Homo sapiens: one gene and its partners. The protein of the gene in region 4 purifies or fractionates together with the protein of the main gene of each other region. This does not show direct contact. Each region holds a gene or a part of one and is shown on either strand. Other genes may lie near its edges. The genes, in order: INTS1, TUBGCP4, ARFGEF1 and ADGRG2.

Region 1 (6,488 bases), on a different chromosome or scaffold from region 4:
CCAGGCCCACAAGGAGCAGGCAAGGGGCCCGGGACCCCTGAGTCAGCAGCCCCTGCCCAAGCCCAGCCTGGACCGTACCGGCGTCCACCAGGCGGAGCACCTCAGAACGGATCATGCGCAGCTTCAGCCAGTCAGGAAGCAGCAGCGCCTCCTCCGATGTGTCCACCAGGAAGGCGGTGGGCAGTGGCTTCTCCTCCGGAAACCAGATGTCCAGCAGCGCCTGGAACTCGCTGTCGTCGGCTTCAGGAAGGACAACGGGTGAGCAGCCTTCAGACCCACCGGGGCCCAGCCCCAAGCACCGCTGGTGCCAAGGCTAGAGGCACCTCCTCTCCCGAGAAGGAAACTGAGACTTGGGAGGAGCACGGGGCTCCTGTGCTAGGTGAGCACTTGCTATGTGCGGATGCTTTGCGTAGGTGCACGCATTTGATCCTCACAGATGCTGCAGGAAGGCAAGCAGCATCACTGCCATTTTGTCGTGGCCAAGGGGACATGTGCGTGTCCCCATCCAGCCCCTGCCCTCGGGGCTTTGCTTGGCTGGACCAGGTCCCATCCAGCTCTCTGGCTCCGCAAAGCCACTGGGAAACCCCACAGGCCCAGGCCCACACAGGGCCAGCTTCTCCGGCTGCCCTTCCCAAGGGCGACGCCTGTGACTGTGTCTGCCTCCCAACAGGGGTCACCACCCACCCACGTCCACCCGAACCCCAGCATGAGGGTTCCGCCCCCTTCCCCCACTGACAGACACAACGGGGTGAACGTGGGAGCAGTTCATGGTGTCAGCCAGGAGTAAAGGGGAAGGCTGCGGCCGCAGAGGGCACGGCTGGGTAGGCGCTGGGTTCCAGACACTGCGCTGGCCAGAGCGTCCTCAGGGTCACTCGCCTGGGCCCCGGGGAGAGGACCCACTTGCCTGGCAGCCTCATGTCGCACCTCCACACGGTGAAATCCCGAGTTTGCCGCCTCCCAGGCACCGCAGGCCTACACGGTTAGGCTGGGGCAGTGAGGACTCTGACCCCAGGCTGTACCAGGCCCTCCAGCTCAGGGCTCTACAGGCTGGGAGGTCCCACCACGTGGGGATCTCCCACACGTCCACCAAGTGCTCAGAGACACGCGGGACGGACTGCAGCCTCCTCTTTAGGAGAGAAGCCAGGACACAGGGTTGAAGGGCTGGGGGGCTTCCCGCCCAGAAGCAAGGCAAGGATGCGGAAGCCGCTGGGTGTGGTCAGGGCTGTGGCCCACCTGGCACGAAGCTGCCCCTCCCGGGGCCTGTGGCGGCTCACCTCGAGGCGGGCCCAGCGTCAGCAGGATCACCATGGCATGGACCACGAGGATGTGCATGGTGGCTGTCTCCCCGCTGCTCCAGCGTAGGAAGACCTGGTCCTGAGACTCCGACTGTGGGAAAAGAGGTGGAGTCAGGCCGTAAGGTTCAGGGACCCTGAGCCAGCGCCGAGGGTACCCAGCTGGCACCGAGCGTGCCGTGCAGCCTCACCCAGCCGTAGACCTCCTCGCCCTCACCCGGCCGTAGACCTCCTCGCCCTCACCCAGCTGTAGACCTCCTCGCCCTCCTTGCTCTGCCGCATGCGCCTCACGTAGCGTGAGAAGATGGACAACAGAGCGCTCAGCACGGCGTCCGACGCGGCACTCGGGGAGAGCTTCGAGAAGAGGTGGGACATGATGGTGGAGCGCTCCACGACCAGCCGGGCCACGTCCTGGTGTGTGGACAGGGGGGCGTCAGAGGCTCCGAGACAGCTCTGCTCTCCGGCCAGCTGGGGTGACCTCGTCGCAGGCACGCTCTCACTGGGATCTTAAGCAGGGCCCGCGGCACCGCAGACCCTCACTCAGCCGCAGGCCGCCAGGGAAGACGACCAGAGCTGGGTCGGACTCTCCAGGGGGGAGGGAGGACACGACTCTCACAGCCAGGGACAATGACCAGGCCCTGAAAGCGGACGCTGCTGCCCTCTGCCCGGCAGCCACCATCTGTTCACCTATCGCTCATTCCCTGAGGACTCGGGCCACCAACTTTCACTAGGTCACAGCGCAGGTTGTGGACAAGAGAACCGTGATGCAAAGTGAGAAGCAGCCCAGCAGAGAAGGACAGCACCCAGGAGAGAAGATGGGAGTCAGCGCCACACATGTGAGCTAGAGATGCTGAGGACAGCGGGCAGGTGCCCAGCGACCTGGGCCCACAGCCCAAACCCTCCTGGCGTCGGGGAGAAGGCTGATGGCTCAGATTCCACCCTGCTGTGAACAAGGCACCCTCACCCCCGTGGCTTCGCATCCTCAGGGTCTGGGGAGAAAGGCTCCAGGGAGTGAGTGGTGACTAAGGAAGGGACACAGGTGGCCACGGGGTCATAGAAGCCCCAGCACAGCAGCCGTGACGGCCCTCCCACCCTCAATGCCTCCCTGTGGCCCAAGAAGCCGCCAGCCCAGGGCACTGCACCACTGGCCCCTTACCCTCCCCAGGGCAGGGTCTCTGTGCTGACCCCGTCCCCTCCCCAGGGCCACACTGCCGGCTGGCCCCGTCCCCTCCCCAGGGCCACACTGCCGGCTGGCCCCGTCCCCTCCCCAGGGCCACACTGCCGGCTGGCCCCGTCCCCTCCCCAGGGCCACACTGCTGGCTGACCCTGCTGCCTCACCAGGGCCAGGTCGCTGTGCTGGGCCTGCTCCTCCACAGGCGTGTGCTGGGACAAGTAGATCAGGTAGGCGCTGATGGTCTGGGGATCAGTCTCCATGTGGATTGCCTGGAGGGGAGGGTGGTCTGAGCGGCAACAGGGCAGGGCTGCGGCCCTCTCATCTTTCCCTGCCGCGGCCCCGGTCAGCGCCCTCACCTGCTGCAGGGCCAGGGCTGTGGTGCTCCTGACGCTGTCGAACAGAGGCAGGCGAGGCAGGTCCCGCAGCAGCCACTGATAGCCCTGCAGCACATCTGTGTCCCCCACATCCTCCTCCATGGGGGGCTCCTTCTCCTCCCCGTCCCGCAGGCTGCCCTCCGAAAGCACCAGCGACAAACCCTGTGGCAGACACTCATGAGCTGGGCCGGCTTTCGGCAGTGCAGGCAGGGTCTCACCCTGGCCCCGGGAGCACACGCATGGTGCCCTCAGAGCCCCGAGGAGAATGTGGCGCTTGCTTCCCACGGGAGAGGCCGCAGGTAAAAGGGAAAAACGAGACTGAGCTCTTTCTGTTAAATGCTTCTGTTCAAGTTCCTGAAGCCACTCTGGACCCTCCCGTCACCAGCAAGAAAGGAACACCAGGCAGGCGGCAGGGTCCACCTTCACGTTTCACTAGCGCATCCTTCCTACGCAGGGAAGGAACTTAAAATACAGTCAGAGTGCACTGAACACTCATTTGATTTTTACTTTTCCTTTTTAAGACAGGGTCTCATTCTGTTGCCTAGGCTGGAGTGCAGTGGTGTGATCACAGCTCACTACAGCCTCAAGTGATTCTCCCATCTCAGCCTCCCAAGTGGCTTGGACCACAGGTGCATGCTGCCACACCCAGCTCATTTTTCTCATCTTTTATTTTTTGTAGAGATGGGTATCATTATGTTGCCCAGGCTGGTCTCAAACTCCTGGGCTCAAGTGATCCTCCTGCCTCAGCTTCCCAAGTAGCTGGGAACACAGGCACACACTACCACACCTGGCTAATTTTTTCAGTTTTTGTAGAGAGAGGATCTTCCTGTGTTGCCCAGGCTGGTCTCAAACTCCTGGACTCAAGTGATGCTCCCACCTCGGCCTCCCAAAGTGCTGGGATGACAAGAGCAAGCCACTGCCCCAGGCCTACTCATTTTACTTCTTTATTTTTCATTTATTTATTTTTTTTTTTTTGAGATGGAGTTTCACTTGTTGCCCAGGCTGGAGTACAGTGGCACAATCTTGGCTCACCTCAACCTCCGCCTCCTAGGTACAAGCGAGTCTCCTGCCTCAGCCTCCAGAGTACCTGGGATTACAGGCCCCCTCCACCACGCCCAGCTAATTTTTTCTATTTTTAATAGAGACGGGATTTCACCATGTTGGCCAGGCTGGTCTCCAACTCCTGACCTCAGGTAATCTGCCTGCCTTGGCCTCCCAAAGTGCTGGGATGACAGGCGTGAGCCACCGTGCCCGGTCCCCAGCCTACTCATTTTAAACATGAAGAGCGTGCGCAGAAAGACCCGCCCACCACCTCACCTTCATGGCCAGCACGCGGGAGGCCACCTGGGAGGAGCCGAGGCGCCGCAAGAAGTAGTCCAGCACCTCACACGTGGTCTGCTCATCAGCCTTCGGGCCCAGTAGCAGGTCCTGCAGGCGGCCCAGCAGCTGCCGCTGCTTCTGTTGCCTCTGCAGGGAGGAAGGGGCTCTCAGGGGTGCAGGTGACAGGCCAGGCGGGTAGGACGTGGGGTGCGCGGCTGGTGGGCTCAGGCATGGGTTGCCCTGACAGGGGTGCGGGGTGAGAGGCGGGGGGGCTGAGGGGTGGGCGGCCCTGACCTGCCGCTTCTTGGCCTTCTGCTCCTTGCTCTCGCCCTCGTCGTCCTCCTCCCCGGAAGCAGCATCGTCCACAGCATCGTGCAGCAGGAACTCGCACAGACACTGCACGGGCAGCACGTCCAGGGAGCCCTCGCTGGACTGTACCAGGTCCGCCAGCCAGGGCATGGACTGCGAGGAGGCCTGGGCAGGCGACAGTGGCGCCCGCTCAGCACCTTCCAGGCCCAACACCTGCCGCCAGCCCCCCGGGTGACCGCGGAGCCGGAAAGGGCGACACGCAGCAGCCAGCTCATGGGCCCCGCATCCAGGTGTGTCCTGCCCTCTTCTGGCCACCAAGGCCTCCGGAAGGTTCCGGGCCTCCCAAGACCACCATCTCTACCTCCTGGAGCCTCGGCACTCACCTGCCGCTGGATGATGTGGAGGAGAAAGTCAGGGTTTCGGCTGCGGCACAAGAGGTGCCCGAGGCGGAGGGACTGGTTGAGGCTTTTCACTTGATCCAGGATGTGAGGGGGAGGCCTCCGGGGGGGCCCCCTGAGGGCCACAGGGGACACGGTGCGTCAGCACGCCCTGAGCGGATCACCCCCAGAACCCCTCCTCCTCCCATCCCTGCTTCGAGGGGCAGCCGACAGCCCGAGACGGGCAACCCATCCTGACCTGGGATGTCCCCAAGGCCTGGCCCCACAGCAGTAAGCCAGGGACGCGGGGACGGGGCTCCACAGGCCTTTCAGGTTCTGCCGCAGTGCGGTCGGCTCCGCCTGCTCCTTCAGCCTCTGTCCCACCCACACCAACCACCCACAGGTCCCGACGGCAGGCGCAGGGCGGGGCTGTGTGGGCTGCGTACTGGGGGTCCAGGCTGGTGAGCTGCGACAGGAGGAGGCTGCTGCTCTCAGTGATGGTCTGCTTGGTGGACGCGGCCGCCAGGTGCCCCTCGAAGGCCAGGATCTCCTGCTTCTCCCGCTGGGCGGTCTGCAGCTCACGGTTCAGCATCTCCGTCCGGGTCTCCTCATCCGTCAGGGTGCACGGTGGGTAGGAGTAGTTGCTAGGGCCAGACGGGGGAGCGTGTCACCCTGCCCCCCATGAAGGGCTCACTCCCAGTGGGCCACGCTCAGGGTCAAGGAGGGTAAAACCCCTACGGCTGCTGCTGCCTCTGCTGCACAGCAGTCAGGAGCACAGGGCGCCCGGTAGCATCCATGGGGCTGTCAGAGCTGAGACGAGAAGCCGCAGCGCTGCCCAGAGGCGCGGTCCAGCCACTGCCTCGTCCTCCGCAGGCAGCACGCCTGCCCTCACCAGAGCCAAGGCCAGCGGTGTCAGAACCTGGCCTCCTCCCAGGCCACCTCCCCTTCCACGCCACCTACGCTGGGAGCATAGCCTAGTTTGACAGCCATGTAGGCTCTGCCCGCCCCATCCAGGGACAGACCTGCAGGGCAGGGACTCTCTTGCCTACAGAGGCACACGTGGCTTCGGCGTGTTCCAAAACCCAGCTCCCCATGGCCGCTCTAATCTGAGCTCTGTCCCCAAGGCCCCAAAGTCAGTCTGCTCCTTCAGAGGTGGGGGGAAGCAGCTGTGCCTCCCACCTCAGGACACACACGCACCCACTCCCCACAACACACAGGCAGACACACACCCAGTCCCCACAAAACCATGGGCAGACACATGCCCAGTCCTCACAGTGCAACGGCCCCAAACGTACCCGATCCCAACGCCACACACACACACCTGGTCCCCACAATACCAGGGCCACACACACTCCCCGTCCCTATGATGCCACAGCCTCGGGCGCCCCTTCACCTTGGCCACTGCCCTTGGTGTGGTGCCCTCACTGGTGAGATAGGATGCTGGCCCCAGAGCTCATCGGCCCTCGCCCACACTGTGTGGGCACCAATGCTGCCAGGCACAGCTGGTGGTGAGCCCTGGGCGTCTCCTAGGCAGGCTGTGCCGACTCTCGTCCCACCTGCACTGAACTGTCCTTGAGGCTCACCCACTGCTGATCCCACGCAGGGTCACACCTGGCCCACTGGCCAGTGTTAAAGCCCACCT
Region 2 (6,488 bases), on a different chromosome or scaffold from region 4:
GAGCCAGATAGAGCTGGGATATAAACCCATTTACTACTATCTGTGTGACACTGGGCACACCCCTTAACCAACTTAGCCCTTTAGTGGATTGTGTGTGATAATGTATTTAAAGCACTTAGCACAGTGCCTAGTACACAGCCAGTGACAGTAAAAGCTGGATGTTGTTATTTGATGAGGACAATCAGCTTTGAAGGGCCAATGAGCACCCACCACTGGCTTTGCTGGCACAGCATGAACATAGCAGAGCACTGTTTCTACACTTACACAGTTAAAAATGATGCAGCAATGTGGCAGATTAACTGGTTTACTAGTTACATTAATGAAAATGAACACCCCTAATAAGCTAAGGCACAAATAAAGAGCTTAAAAAAAATGACGACTTGAGCTAAAGATGTTTAATCCATTTGTCCACTTGGTCCAATTGTGGACCAATTCAATAGGACAGCAGATTCTTCTAATATGAAATCTCAAAGCATTTATTCCTCAGACTTATTAACTCTGCCCAGAAAGACATTCTCCTAACTTCTCAATACACCTGATAAAAACTTGTGATAAGAATAGGCATATTTATTAAACATCTGGCTTTCACTCACTGATCTCAAAATTCTCAGAAAACTGCCAGCACACTAACCATAAACCTATTACCTTCTTCCTAAGAATTAACTTTCTGCTTCACACCCAACAGTTCTAAAACCTTACTGCAGGTTCCTCTCACCTGCAAACATCCACAGCACTTTTTTTCTTACCCCAACAACATTCTTGGGAACATCTATGAACATTTCCTCTACCTTCTGGACCAGGAGGTGTTTAAAGGCAGAGTCATACTTTTGCATTCCTGACACTTAACATGATAACCAAGCAGATATTGTTAAATGAATGAATAAATAAAAACTACTAAAAACTAGGGTCTTCGAAAAATAATGTAAAGCAAAATTAATTAGTAATATTCCCTCAGTGCTTAGCAAAGCAAAAGGAATAAGGAAAGTTCTCACCTTTTGACTTTTAATTTGTTCTACTACAACCATCACAGAGGGAAAAAGAAGCTGGAACTGCAAAGTAGAGAATAATTAGAAGGGTATGTAATCAAATGTAAGGGAAAAAAAATCAACTTGGGAAATGCTTTTGTTTCTAAATAGTTCAACTTAAGATAAAATGGCAATACCACAGAACAGTCAAGATCCAGCATCCTAAGGCAATTTGATGTGGAGGTTCGCTGCAGATAGGAAGAGGATGGCAGAGAGAGGCAGTTTCTTTTTTTTCTTTTTTCTTTTTTTTTTTTTTTTTGAGACAGGGTCTCACTCTGTCACCCAGGCTGGAGTATAGTGGTAGGATCCCAGCTCACTGCAACCTCCACCCCTGGATTCAGAACGTTAGCCTCCCAAGTAGCTGGGACTACAGGTGCACGCCACCACAACCGACTAATTTTTGTATGTTTAGTAGAGACAGGGTTTCACCATTTTGGCCAGGCTGGTCTCCAACACCTGACCTCAAGTGATCCAACCACCTCGGCCTCCCAAAGTGCTGGGATTAGAGGTGTGTACCACCATGCCCAGTCGGGAAGCAGTTTCTATTTCTGAGGCTGGCATACTTGTTAATACTGATGTCCATATAGAGCAGTAACATTAGCGTTAATATCAGACATTAAGTTTTAACTATATTTGGAAATCTTTAAACAGTTTTGATCTAGTAAAACATACAAAATGCACAAAATATAAAATGTTAGGCTCTGAATCCAGAAGAAAAAAAGTTCTCAAAAACAGTACCATAAATTAGATTATTCTAACACTATCAACAGATTGCAAGGCATTTGGTTATTTGGGCAGCATACCTGGTCTAGGAAGTAGTTGACATGTGATATGGAGAGATGGGGATCACCCAGGAACTGCAATAAAAAACTTTGTGATTAGAGCTCCACACAAAATATCTCAAATCTATTTGATCTATGAAAATGAGAAGAGAATCTCATGATGGGCTTAAGTGTTAATTTTAGGCTATCGAGAACTGATAATTTAATCAGGTTATTAATCCTGATTTTCGGGCCATAAAGAAACCAAGCCAGGGCTCTTATAAACTCACTAAAGAGTCTTTGCCATGATCTGTAAGCCACTCTGATCACAGGTTGGGCAATCACTGAGAGAACACTGTACCTTCCAGCCATGCAGGCAACTGCTCACTCTTAACTACCTGATCTTATCAAAGGGCATTTCAGATTCAAGAACATGCCCTAATCTACTGTCCCAGAGGTGTTTCCTATATCTCCTCCTTCTTACCTCTTGTTCCAAATCAAGCAGTGCTTGGCGATAAGGCTGCAAAACAGAATCCAGCCCTGTGCAGAAGGCCCGCAGGTAGATTCCATGTAACCCACCTTGGCCCTGTTGAGATGGATGGTGATCCTGAAATCAAACAAACAGAAGCCAACTTCTCAGCTCAGGCCCTGAAACCTGAGAAAGACATTATCAGGCTTGTTTCTTTTAAAAGTTATACAAACAAACCAATTAGAGGCCTTGCCTTCACTTGAATATTTCTAGTGATGAGAAATCCATAACTTATTTCACATGAATTACCGATAAATTCACTGAAAGCTTGACATAGCTCCTGCCCTCTAGAGGTGAAAGCTTGACATAGCTCCTGCCCTCTAGAGGTGTACACCCACAGAGAACAGGACCCACCTGCTGTTGCACATGGCCCGTGTACTGTTCAATGAACTCAGTGAAGCGAATATAGTCTGTGCCGAGCCGGCAGAGTCGATTCAGGACACTGGTCTCACTGGGGTGGAGGAAAGGGAAGTCCTGCGATACCTGCAGGAAGAGGAACACTGCCGAAAACACCGCCAGTCGCTGCCCCAACTTTCAGGTGCTTCAAACGCTTCATACTACACATTTATCGTTTTCTTTCTCAAGATGTCCACTTAAAGGTGTTAAGTTCTGGATAACAATGTATTTCCAAAGCACTTCAAAGGGGTTCCCTATCCCTGACCCAATTATTTGCTTCTTAAAATAGGTAACACATGCTAAATAATTTAAACAATATAAAATGGTGTACATTAAAAATAAGTCAACCACCCCAGAAGCAGCCGCTATTACCTGCTTCTTAAGCAATCTTCTAGGGATGGTCTCTAAGGATATGGGGGTTTTGACCTGGTTGCAACAAAGTCTCTTTAGCAATATTGCTCAAATGGGGGTCTGCAGACTCCATGGGTTTCTCAGACATATTCTTAGGATTTACAAATTCCCTATAGAAGTTTTCATTGTTTTCATTCCAGTAAAAATCTAAAATTAAGCATACCTATTATCTGTAAATGCACCTTATAACTGGCCATATATATTTAGTGTCCATATTTACATTTGTATTTTTAATTTAAATGAAAGCCAAATGATAGCCTAATATGCTATATACAAAGGTTTCACAGCAGTTCAGGTAGAAAAAAGTAGTGGGAAAATATATTCCTTCAACCAACTTTTTAAAAATACTGTGGTAAAATACGTATAATAAAATCTACCATTTTAGCTATTTTAAGTATATAGTTCAGTGGTATGAAGAACATTCACACTGTTGTGCAACCAGCACCACCATCCATCTCCAGAACTTTTTTGTTTGCCCCAAATGAAACTCCGTATCCAGCCCCTGCCAAACACCACTCTACTGCCTCTGACTTTGACTACTCTAGCTACCTCATATAAGTGGAATCACTCAGGTCGGGTACAATTGCTCACGCCTGTAATCCCAGCATTTCGGGAGGCCGAGGCAGGTGGATCACCTGAGGTCAGGAGTTCAAGACCAGCCTGGCCAACATGATGAAACCCTGTCTCTACTAAAAATACGAAAATTAGCCAGGCGTGGTGGTGGGCGCCTGTAATGCCAGCTACTTGGGAGGCTGAGGCATGAGAACTGCTTAAACCCGGGAGGCGGCGGTTGCAGCGAGCTGAGATTGCACCACTGCCCTCCAGCCTGGGCAACAGAGCGAGACTCTGTCTCAAAAAAAGTGGAATCATTATTTGTCCTTTTGTGACTGGCTTATTTCAGCTCATCCATGTTGTAGCACATGCCAGAATTTCCTTCCTTTTTAAGGCTGAACAATATTCCCTTGTGTGTATATACCACATCTCAATTACCTATTCGTCCCTGCACTGACACTTGCTTCCACCTCTCAGCGATTGTGAATAATGCTTGGTGAACACGGGTGTACAAATATCTGTTGGGTTCCTGCTTTCACTTCTTTTGGGATATACCCTGAAGTAGAACTGCTAGATTGTATGGGAATTTTATATTTAATTTTTTTTTTTAGAGACAAGGTTTCACTCTGTCACCCAGACTGGAATACAGTGGTGGGTTCATAGCTCACTGTAACCTTGAACCCCTAGGTTCAACCAATTCTCCCACCTCAGCCACCAGAGTAGCTAGGACTACAGGCATGTGTCACCATGCCCAGCTAATTAAAAATTTTTTTTTTGTAGAGATGGAGTCTTGCTCTGTTGCGCAGGCTAGCCTCAAACTCCTGGCATTAACTGATCCTCCAGCCTCACCCTCCCAAAGTGCTGAGATCACAAGTGTCAGCCGCTGTGCCTGGCCTTTATTTAATTTTTTGAAGAACTGCCATACCATTTTCCACAATGGCTGTACCATTTTACATTTCCATTACTATATCCCAGGTACTGTGCTAATACTTTGAGATAAAAGAGTGAACAAAATCAGATACAATTACTGCTCCAAAGGAACTTAGCATATTATATGGATGGATATATAATATGGATTATATGTGGATGCCATTTTATATGACAGTAAATGTGGTAACAAATAGGCGAAGAAGAATTTTTCTGTTACCAAGTCCATAGAAAATTGATTAGGAATCCAATTAATGTAGATTTTAATGACACAATGCTAATCACATCTTCAAGTTAGTAACTTAAGAGGTTGCACAACACGGTGCTTAAGAACCTGGTCTCTTGCCGGGCGCAGTGGCTCACGCCTGTAATCCCAGCACTTTGGGAGGCCGAGGTGGGCGGATCACGAGGTCAGGAGATCGAGACCATCCTGGCTAACACGGTGAAACCCCATCTTTACTAAAAAAACTACAAAAAAATTAGCCGGGTGTGGCGGCAGGCGCCTGTAGTCCCAGCTGCTCGGGAGGCTGAGGCAGGAGAATGGCGTGAACCCAGGAGGTGGAGCTTGCAGTGAGCCGAGATTGCACCACTGCACTCCAGCCTGGGCGACAGAGCGAGACTCCATCTCGGAAAAAAAAAAAAAAAAAAAGAACCTGGTCTCTGGAGCCCAACTGCCTGGGTTTGAATCCCTGAGTTGCCTCTTACTTGCTTGAAAGCTTAGGCAAGTTACTATACCTGTCTGTGCCTGTTTTCATACCTATAAACTGAAGAAAATAATTGTGAGGATTAAATAAGTTAATACATGTGTAAAGCACATATCCCAACCACATAGCTAGTGCTCAATACACATAAGCAATTTTATATTATTAACAAGACAGCTCTACCAGTTATCAAGTGATACTACTATTAAAATTGGCATTTGAGCGTTTCTTGTTGGCAGAGTTTTCGAAAAGTTCAATATCTAATTATTCTGAAACAGCAAATAATAACTCGAAGTTACTGATACCATTCTATATAACACAGTTATAGGAACAGGCTGAGAAATCCTGCATTAGAATAATGGTCATTTGAACTTATTGATTTGGTAGTTTTGTTTACTTTTAATTTATAAAAATATTTGATTTTATAGTTGTTTAAGAGTATTATGCTTGAGTTTATACCTAGCTTATGTATATACATATTCAATATAATAAAATAATTTTCATTAACACTTGGCACTCATGACAACTTTTCCCTTTACTCAAATGTAAAAGACACTGCTCTGCAGAAATTATGTAATATTTGCCATCTTTGTCTTCTTTTCTTCCATCAATACCTAAACACCTGCTATGTGGCAGAAACTGTGCTAGGTGCTCTGGGTAGATGAATGAAGAAGACCACTGGTCTTCGCTCCCAGGGGCAATCTATGCGGGAGAAAGGCTAAAAACAGGTAACAACAATACATTATGAATTGTGACAAATCCTACAAGGGAAATAAACAAGTTGATGGAGAATAATGGCATCAGGGGAGGATGCTTAAAGATGTGCTCAGAGAAAGTTTTTCTGACAAAGTGACTTTAAAGCTGAGACCTTGAGGATGAAATGGTAGAAAATACATGATTGAGAATTTTTCATAAGAAAGAAAGGAAGGGAAAAGATGAATTACTTGTGGTTGTCTCCCCCACCCCCTCCCTAGCTATCTTTCCTGTACTGTGTTATCTCTTCTTATTTTGGACCATCAGGCACCCACATACTTCCTAAATACTGTCCTCCTATATGCCTGGCATTGTACTAAGATCTATGGAGAAAAGTGAAACATCGAATTAGTCTTCAAAGACCTACAGGTGAAAGATAACAATTCAAACTCCACCACACAAATCTTCACCTGTTTTTTTCAAAAATTCACCT
Region 3 (3,500 bases), on a different chromosome or scaffold from region 4:
AGACAGTAAAACATTTTCATCCTGCCTTTTATATGTATTTTAGAATGTTTTAATGATAGAATTTTCAGATGATATAATAGGATATTTTCTACTGAGAATAACACAAAATAATTTCAATTTGTTTTGTCTGTTTTTTTTTTTTTTTTTTTTTTTGAGACGGCGTCACGCTCTGTCACACAGGCTGGAGTGCAGTGGCGCGATCCTGGCTCACTGCAAGCTCCGCCTCCCGAGTTCACGCCATTCTCCTGCCTCAGCCTCTCGAGTAGCTAATCTCGTGTAGCGCTACCGCGCCCGGCTGATTTTTTTTGTATTTTTATTAGAGATGGGGTTTCACCGTGTTAGCCAGGATGGTCTCGATCTCCTGACCTTGTGATCCTCCTGCCTTGGCCTCCCAAGGTGCTGGGATTACAGGCGTGAGCCACCGCGCCCGGCCTGCCTTGTCAGGTTTTTTGCAGGGAGGTTTTTTTATCAAAGAAATGAGCCTTTCACTTGTCTGGTTCTTTTCCTGGAATAGGAACTTTGTGGATGTAGTGAAAGATCTCAAGGTGAAGTTGAGATCCTCAACTTAGAGCCTTTAGGTGGGCCCTAAATCCAGTGAATGGTGTCCTTTTAAGGAAGAGGAAGGGACACAGTCACATACAAAGGAAAAAGTCCATGTGAAAATGGAGACGAGATCAGTTACTGCTGCCACATGCTATGGAATGCCAGAAGCCACCAGAAGTAGGAAGAGGCAAGGAGGGATTCTTCCCTTTGGATGTAGCATAGCTCTGCTGTGACCTTGATTTTAGATTTTGGGCCACCAGAACTATGAGAGGAAATTTCTGTTGTTTTAAGCCACCAAATTTATGGTAATTTATTAAGGCAGCCTTAGGAAATGAATGCAAGTTCCCTTTTATCCTAACTTTTCAGACCCATTTTGATTTCTTTATTCAAGTTTCCACTTACAGAGTCTACTGTACATATGTTTACACAATCAGATCCTGTCTTTGGCTCATCTCTGATTGTTTCATGAATCTAGAAAGCAGTTATTCTGAGGCTTTAGTGTGTTATAAGTAGAGGCTCTTGAAAAGCTTCTTAAAAGGTCTGGGCTCAAGTATTTAAGAATATTTAAAAAGTTTTGTGTTCTGCTTTTGATATTTTGTTTTGCTTAGACTTAGACTTGATGTAACTAAATTTGTTTATATAACCTATGTTATCTTTTCATTCAGAAAAGTCTTTGAAAATCTTTAAAATGGCCGGGCGCGGTGGCTCACGCCTGTAATCCCAGCACTTCGGGAGGCCGAGGCAGGTGGATCATGAGGTCAGGCGTTCGAGACCAGCCTGGCCAGCATAGTGAAACTCCGTCTCTACTAAAAATACAAAAAGTTAGCCGGGCGTGGTGGCAGTGGGCGCCTGTAATCCCAGCTATTTAGGAGGCTGAGGCAGGAGAATCGCTTGAACCTGGAAGGCGGAGGTTGCAGTGAGCCAAGATTGTGCTACTGCACTCCAGCCCGAGAGACAGTGCGAGAGTCCGTCTCAAAAAAAAAAAAAGAAAATCTTTAAAATATTTCATATTACCACTGGCGTGTCTTTAGGAAACGCCATGTGAGGCTATTAATTTTTCTTAACAAAAATGTGTACATTGAGACTTCATTTAATCAGCTGTTTAACAATCCTCATCTGTCAGAACTTTGCTAAGAAATAATAAAAATATAAGCAGTCAAAGTACATATTTTGAAGGCCAAGCACTTTATATAGAAGAGAATCTCTATGGCTTTTACTCAGTCTGTATGCTTTTATAATTCCAGTAAGTTTGGTAATTTGATATTTTTTATAAACGAATCCTTCAAATCATTTTCAAAAGTGTAACTACAACAATAAAATTTACTGTGATACGGGGCCCGGCGTGGTGGCTGGCGCCTGTGATCCCAGCACTTTGGGAGGCTGAGGCGGGCAGATCATGAGGTGAGGAGATCGAGACCATCCTGGCTAACACAGTGAAACCCCGTCTCTACTAAAAATACAAAAAATTAGCCAGTCGTAGTGGCGGGCGCCTGTAGTCCTAGCTACTTGGGAGGCTGAGGCAGGAGAATGGTGTGAGCCCGGGAGGCGGAGCTTGCAGTGAGCCGAGATTGCGCCACTGCACTCCAGCCTGGGTGACAGAGTGAGACTCTGTCTCAAAAAAAAAAAAAAAAAAAAAATTTACCGTGATACTCTTAGCTGAAGATAAATAACTACTGTTAACTTTTTGAAAAACAACTTTCTGATAAATGATTTACATACTATAGTATTTACTTTTTTTGAGTGTAATGATTTTTGGTAAATTTACTGAATTATGCAGCCATCAGCATAAATCCAGTTTTAGAACATTTCTATTACCTCAATAAAATCTGTAGTGCCCTTGTTGTCATCCCTAGCTTCTGGCATTCACTAATCTATTTTCTGTCTTTAGAGTTGCCTTTTCTGGACATTTCATGAAATGCAGTTATACACAGGTGGTCGTTAGTGTCTGGTTTCTTTCAGTATGTTTTTGAGGTTCATTCATGAAGTTTGTATCCACACTTCATTTCCTTTTATTGATGAATAGCATTCCATTGTTTAGATATCCTATATTTTGTTTATCCATTTACCAGTTGATGGATATTTGGGTTGAATGAATAATACTGCCATGAATATTTGTGTATAAGTCTTTGTGTGGACGTAAACTGTTATTTGTCCTAGGTAGACAAACTGGGAAGGGAATTGGTGGGCCACTTGATAAATTTATGTTTAACTTTTTAAGAAACTGCTAAATTCTTTTCCAGCCTACATACCCACCAGCAGTGTATGAGGCTTCCCGTTTCTTCAAATTCTCACCAATATTTGTTACTGCCTTTTTATTTTTAGCCATCCTAGTTGTTATGATGAAGTGTTACTTCATTGAAACACTGTTAACTTTTTGAAGTACAGATTAAATATCCTTTATCAGAAATGCTTGGGATCAGAAATGTTTTCAATTTTGTTTTTTTTTTTTTTTTTGGACTTTGGAATATTTGCATATACATAATGAAATATCTTGGGGATGAGATTGAAGTCTAAACACAAAATTTACTAATGTTTCACATCCACCTTATACACAATCCAAAGGTAATTTTATGCACTATTCTTTTTTTTTTTTTTTTTTTTTGAGACGGAGTTTAGCTATTGTTGCTCAGGCTGGAGTGCAGTGGTGCGATCTCAGCTCACTGTAACTTCCGCTTCCCAGGTTCAAGTGATTCTCCTGTCTCAGCCTCCCAAGTAGCTGGGATTACAGGCATGCGCCACCATGCTCAGCTAATTTTGTATTTTTAGTAGAGATGGGGTTTTGCCATGTTGGCCAGGCTGGTTTCAAACTCTGACCTCAGGTGATCCGCTGACCTTGGCCTCCCAAAGTGCTGGGATTACAGGCATGAGCCACTGCACCTGGTCTTATGCACTGTTGTTAATTTTGTGCATGAAACAAAATTTTGACTGTGTTTTGACTGTGACCCATCACGTGAGAT
Region 4 (5,319 bases):
CCAATATGGTGAAACCCTATCTCTACAAAAAATACAAAAATTAGCTGGGCATGGTGGCAGGTGCCTGTAATCTCAGCTACTCGAGAGGCTGAGGCAGGAGAATTGCTTGAACCCAGGAAGTGGAGAGTGCAGTGAGCCAAGATTGCACCATTGCACTCCAGCCTGGGTGATAGAGCGAGACTCTGTCTCAAAAAAAAAAAAAAAAAAAGAAAAAAAAAGTATACACTGATAAGAATTCTTCAAATTGAAGATTATGTTCTTATGTCTACCCAGTCTTTCCTTTTTCCTTTCCTTCGGACTCCAACTAGAACAGCAAGGAGCAGAGACAAAGACAAACTAGTCCTTAAAATGCTGTTATGGAGACAAAATGACACCAAACAAGTCCACTCTGTGAATTGGTTATGCTGTAAATTAATCTTTGTCTAAATGGCCTTTGACAAACCGACTGACTCCTAGCTGACCTCCTTAGACATACCCAGTATCCCAAGTGAAGCTGTTTCATCGTTTTTTGTTTGTTTGTTTTAAAGACAGGAGGTCTTTCTGTGTTGCCCAGGATGGACTCCAATTTCCTGGCTCAAGCGATCCTCCTGCCTCCGCCTCCCAAGTAGCTGGGACTACAGGTGCTTGCCTGGCTTGCTTCACCATTTTCAGTAAGAACGATCATGATGCTGCTCACTGAAGTCAGCAGACTTCCTTTGTGGGGTTAATGACTGCAGTGTGTTTTGAGGAAAAACAAAACAAAACAAAAAAAAACTACTCCAATATTTTGAGGAAATACTTCTTTAAATACTGGCCTCTGCCCTGACACTCCTTGCCTCCTAATATTGGCACCACCTCTGTTTCCTTACAATAGAGTCTCAGAACATGGGATCAATCTTAGACCCAAAGGAGGATGCTTCTCAGAAACACTCTCTGTCCTGCCGTACGTCTGTCTAAAGTAAGAAAAATAGATGAGAGAATTCTGCTTAAGGACCACAGCACAGACACAGTAGGAAAAATAAGGGGGTGGGACCTAAAGGATACTGGACATTGTGCATCCTTTTATGTATATTTTGGTTATATAATCTGTTTTGGGGGATTGATTTCTGAGGTCTCACCCCTCTCCCAATCTAGAGGATCTCACATCTTCCTTTGAATTTAGTACTCGGCATCTTTGTGGGAGCTGAGGACCTTGAAGAAGAGATTGCTCAGAGACCTCTTACCAGGGTGAGGCCAGCTTCCCGTATTTGGGGATCCCACATGCTAACCAGCAATGCAGAAATCCCAAATCCTGTTCTCACTTTTCAGTAGTCCTACCTGTTTGACACTGAGGAAGCAGATACTTGGATGAGATCTGAATTGGGTCTTGTACATTGCCTACAGGCCAAAGGCAATGTGTTGAAGAGATAATCTTGAAAGAGTAATGGGAAAGGAGACCTCAGAAACTGATCTCATGAGGCAGAACAACCCTTGCTCTAATTTCATAGTCACAGGGTACCTGCTGATTTCCAAAAGATGTTACTGTTATGTTTGTCTTCTTAAGAGATGGTGTCTCGCTCTGTCGCCTAAGCTGGAGTGCAATGGCACAATCGTGGTTCACTGCAGCCCCAAACTTCCAGGCTCAAGCAGTCCTCCATCCTCAGCCTCCTGAGTAGCTAGGAGTACAGGCACACAACACTATGACTAACTAATTTTTAATTTTTTGTAGAGACAGGGGTCTCCCTGTGCTGCCCGGGCTGGTCTCCAACTCCTGCACTCAAGCAATCCACCTGCGTCAGCCTCCCAAAGTGCTGGGATTACAGGTGTGAGCCACCATGCCCAGCCAATTGTGTTTGTCTTAATCAGCATGTCCTACACCACTTCCATGCCAGGCCACCAGGGAAAGAGACTGCAGATGTTTTTTCTTTGTGAAAATTACCAAACTTAAAGATCTTAACTGCAAATTTATTTCATTGATTTTAACATTTTTGATTTTAACATATAAATACAAGAAAATTAAATAAATCAGAAAAGAAATATTGCAAAGACAAGTCAGCACTCACAGAAATGTGTATTATTACTATGGTTAGTCTGAGATCCAACATTCACTTGAAATATATGCAAGAGAACCTTAGTGAAAGACTTAACTAAAAGGGGTTTGAAATGTTCCTAATAAGGATGTACTTGAGGCACTGCTCAAGCAGATGTAGGTAGGAAGCAAGATAGACCCTGTATATAACTAGGAGCAATCAAGGCTCGATACATGTAGCAACAATAGCAGTGTAGGACAGTTCCCTGTTCCCAATAGCTACTCCCCTTGTCACTGTGCATTCTTCAAGACACATTTAAAAAACAATTATAGCTCTGGCTGGGCCAGAGTGTACCAGTCATAACAATCAACAATGTACCATGCAGTTGCCTTTTAAAGAACGGCAATATGATTTTTTTCCATATATATGTACCTTTTTAAGAGAAGGAATCCTAGTCTACTCTCCTGTTCCTAAAGGCTCTGGGGATTTGAGAAGCGGCAGTGTATGTACCTCATCTACGTTCACAATTTTCCTGACACATGGTCTGGATGACAGTTCATCCCTCTCTGTGGCCAAGGTATAAAGCTAAACATCTTGGTGCAGATTCTATAATCTGACTACTGGGGATGCGGTCAGGGGATGGGTATTCATATTGGATGCTGTGTTTGGCTGTACAGGTCGTGCACCCAAGAGGGTGAGTGGGGCTAAAATATGGTCTCTCCACTCTGTTTGTCAAACCATGAGCCCATAGGGCTGTGTCTGCCCAGTGGGGGCATCTTTTCCTAACTTGCTCAAAGGCACTGTATGAGCTAACTGTGGCACTGTCTGCTTACATTTTCTCAGTCTGGCTGGGATCATTATTTCTTGATTTCACTGAGGTTTCTGTATTTCACATCCTATATCATCTCCAAAAGGAGCTTTAGGATTTGCGGAACGAGCAAGGATTTTCTGAATTATCACGTGAGACAAAACAACCATGATTCTACAAAGGAATACATTTACACAGTAGAAAATAAATACAAAAAAATGTAGAAGTAAGATTTTTGACACATGGGTCACTAGAATTTAGCTTATATACAACAAAGGCATGCACAACTAAACTCACCAACAGGCTGAAGTCAACAGTTGCTTTATATGATGTTATCAAAGATAACTTAGCCTCTTTAAAAGGTAGCTGAAAGTTCACTACCTTTTTTTGTTTTCTTTATAGGAGTCATTCTTAGTGTATTGTTTAAAACCAACCTTCTTATAAAATGAAAGATAAGAAACCAAATCAGAAATGTCTAAAAACCATGGTGTAATGTCTTGGTTTCTTCTTGTAATAATAATCATCGCCCTTAATTAGCTTATGCTTCTCCAGATGTTGCCGAGAATAAAATGAGTTGATTTTCATACATCTCACATTGTGTAAAAGGTAAAATTGGACATTTCACACTGTCAAGCATCATGCTTTGATTTTAGAAGAAAGGAATCACATTTGCTCAATAAAGTGTAAGCTTCCCCGCTTTGAAGTCCTTCTGAGAGCCATACGGCCTTTCCCATTGCAGGAATCTTCCTTCTCGTTAAACATGTGCTGTTTTCCAGTGAAATCGTGAAGGCACACATCTCCATTCTGAACACTAAAAGAGACCCCATTCCTCTCTGTAGAAGCATTTCCTGTATAAGGAAACACAAAGCGGGTGGCATGAAGTATCCACAGAAAGCATTAAAAAGCAAACAAACTTAGACATTGCTTTATTCTTAAAGATGTATTTGTAAAATATGTTTTTAAAAACATTTGTGATATATGTTCATATTTTATTTATTTTTCATTACTTCCCTAAGGCCACTCAAAGTAAGCATACCAAAGTGGAGATTGCTTCAGAAACCAGTTCTCTATGGCAGTTTTTTTTTTGTTTGGTTTTTAATGAAACAGTCAAAATCTGAAGCAAGGTAATATATTAATAAAAGGCCCACTTCCTAACTCTGGTTGGATATGTTTTGACTTCAAGTAGCAGCATATGTATAATATAAGCTAAGGTAATACTTTGGTCTCCCAAAAGGTTAATGTTAACAGAGATCCCCATATGTACCCTTAGGAAGTTCTTGGTTCCCTAGGTTCCTATAAAATGAAACTTTGTACCAGAGAAACCAGAGCAACCAGCTACAACAGTCATGGCAAGAAGAAATCATCTCTCTTGTAGATTAAACCAGCTCCTCTGACTAAATCAGGACAGGACAAATTCCCAAGAGGAAACTACCAATTCCAACTTCAGAGTCCAGGCCAGGGAGCAGCTGGGCACTCAAGGGTAACTGTTGGTTTGGACGTGGGCCTTCCCCACCCCAAGCAGGCCCTGAGTTATAGGGGAGCACAGGTGCTGGCCTCCTCTAGTTACTTGGCACCATCCTTCTGATCATTAGACCATTGGGAGACTATACACAAAGCTGAATAATAAGCCCATTTGATAGTTCATGACATGATTATGATAACAATGATCATAACAGTACTGGGACACTTTATTATCTCATTTAGAGCCCTGCAGGGTGGGTACTACTGTTATCCCCATTTTGCAGATGAGGAAACGAAGGTTTCAGAAATTAAGTGCTCTCCCCAAGGTCACACAGCTCAGAAGTAATGGAGTTGACGTGTGATGTTGCTTCCAAACTGTGATCCTTGTGGTCCTGGGTACCAAATGAGATGGCTGCTGGTACCCCACCCTCTAAGGCAGCTCAGAACTGAACTGTGTAATATTCATGCAAACTAGGTGATGAATATGGTTAACGTAGCTCCATCTGTGACACAGATCAAATAGGGCATGTGACTGTCTGAGGCAGCTGTTTGGATTTAGGCATTTCGGCTTGAGGACATTTTGGTGCAAGAACAATTTGGTCTGGCATAATAAATCATTAAACTTCTAGCTTTTTTTGTTGTTGTTGAGACGGAGTCTCGTTCTGTCGCCCATGCTGGAGTGCAGTGGTGAGATCTAGGCTCACTGCAACTTCTGTCTCCTGGGTTCAAGCGATTCTCCTGCCTCAGCTTCCTGAGTAGCTGGGACTACAGGTGTGTGCCACCACGTCTGGTTGATTTTCACATTTTTTATTAGAGATGGAGTTTTTCCATGTTGGCCAGGCTGGTCTTGAACTCCTGACCTCAGGTGATCCTCCTAACTTAGCCTCCCAAAGTGCTGGGATTACAGGTGTGAGCCACTGCGCCCAGCCCTAGCTTTCTTTTTTGAAATTGCCAATTCCATTCCTCATCTATCCCAGATGCTGGGGCAAGGACTGAGGAGTCAGGAATGGTTATCTGACATGCATATTATGTGATATTAAACACTGAGCCATTTTGGCAGCC

Evidence for each region.
Region 1: the proteins of ADGRG2 (region 4) and INTS1 purify together in Homo sapiens (affinity purification with mass spectrometry; one large-scale study listed by BioGRID and IntAct). This does not show direct contact.
Region 2: the proteins of ADGRG2 (region 4) and TUBGCP4 purify together in Homo sapiens (affinity purification with mass spectrometry; one large-scale study listed by BioGRID and IntAct). This does not show direct contact.
Region 3: the proteins of ADGRG2 (region 4) and ARFGEF1 purify together in Homo sapiens (affinity purification with mass spectrometry; one large-scale study listed by BioGRID and IntAct). This does not show direct contact.

The regions. Positions count from the first base shown.
Region 1 is NC_000007.14:1,482,468-1,488,955, forward strand, and holds part of INTS1 (integrator complex subunit 1), read right to left. Parts: intron 5,491-6,488; coding exon 5,293-5,490; intron 4,983-5,292; coding exon 4,853-4,982; intron 4,635-4,852; coding exon 4,455-4,634; intron 4,308-4,454; coding exon 4,158-4,307; intron 3,003-4,157; coding exon 2,823-3,002; intron 2,736-2,822; coding exon 2,631-2,735; intron 1,704-2,630; coding exon 1,536-1,703; intron 1,387-1,535; coding exon 1,275-1,386; coding exon of another isoform or gene 1,234-1,274; intron 241-1,233; coding exon 79-240; intron 1-78. UniProt on the Homo sapiens protein: Component of the integrator complex, a multiprotein complex that terminates RNA polymerase II (Pol II) transcription in the promoter-proximal region of genes.
Region 2 is NC_000015.10:43,372,408-43,378,895, reverse strand, and holds part of TUBGCP4 (gamma-tubulin complex component 4), read right to left. Parts: intron 2,799-6,488; coding exon 2,670-2,798; intron 2,442-2,669; exon of another isoform or gene 2,394-2,441; coding exon 2,271-2,393; intron 1,883-2,270; coding exon 1,829-1,882; intron 1,050-1,828; coding exon 993-1,049; intron 1-992. UniProt on the Homo sapiens protein: Component of the gamma-tubulin ring complex (gTuRC) which mediates microtubule nucleation.
Region 3 is NC_000008.11:67,333,782-67,337,281, reverse strand, and holds part of ARFGEF1 (brefeldin A-inhibited guanine nucleotide-exchange protein 1), read left to right. Parts: intron 1-3,500. UniProt on the Homo sapiens protein: Promotes guanine-nucleotide exchange on ARF1 and ARF3. Promotes the activation of ARF1/ARF3 through replacement of GDP with GTP. Involved in vesicular trafficking.
Region 4 is NC_000023.11:18,987,405-18,992,723, forward strand, and holds the end of ADGRG2 (adhesion G-protein coupled receptor G2 isoform 1 precursor), read right to left. Parts: intron 3,645-5,319; coding exon 3,460-3,644; 3' UTR 1,903-3,459; downstream 1-1,902. UniProt on the Homo sapiens protein: Adhesion G-protein coupled receptor (aGPCR) for steroid hormones, such as dehydroepiandrosterone (DHEA; also named 3beta-hydroxyandrost-5-en-17-one) and androstenedione.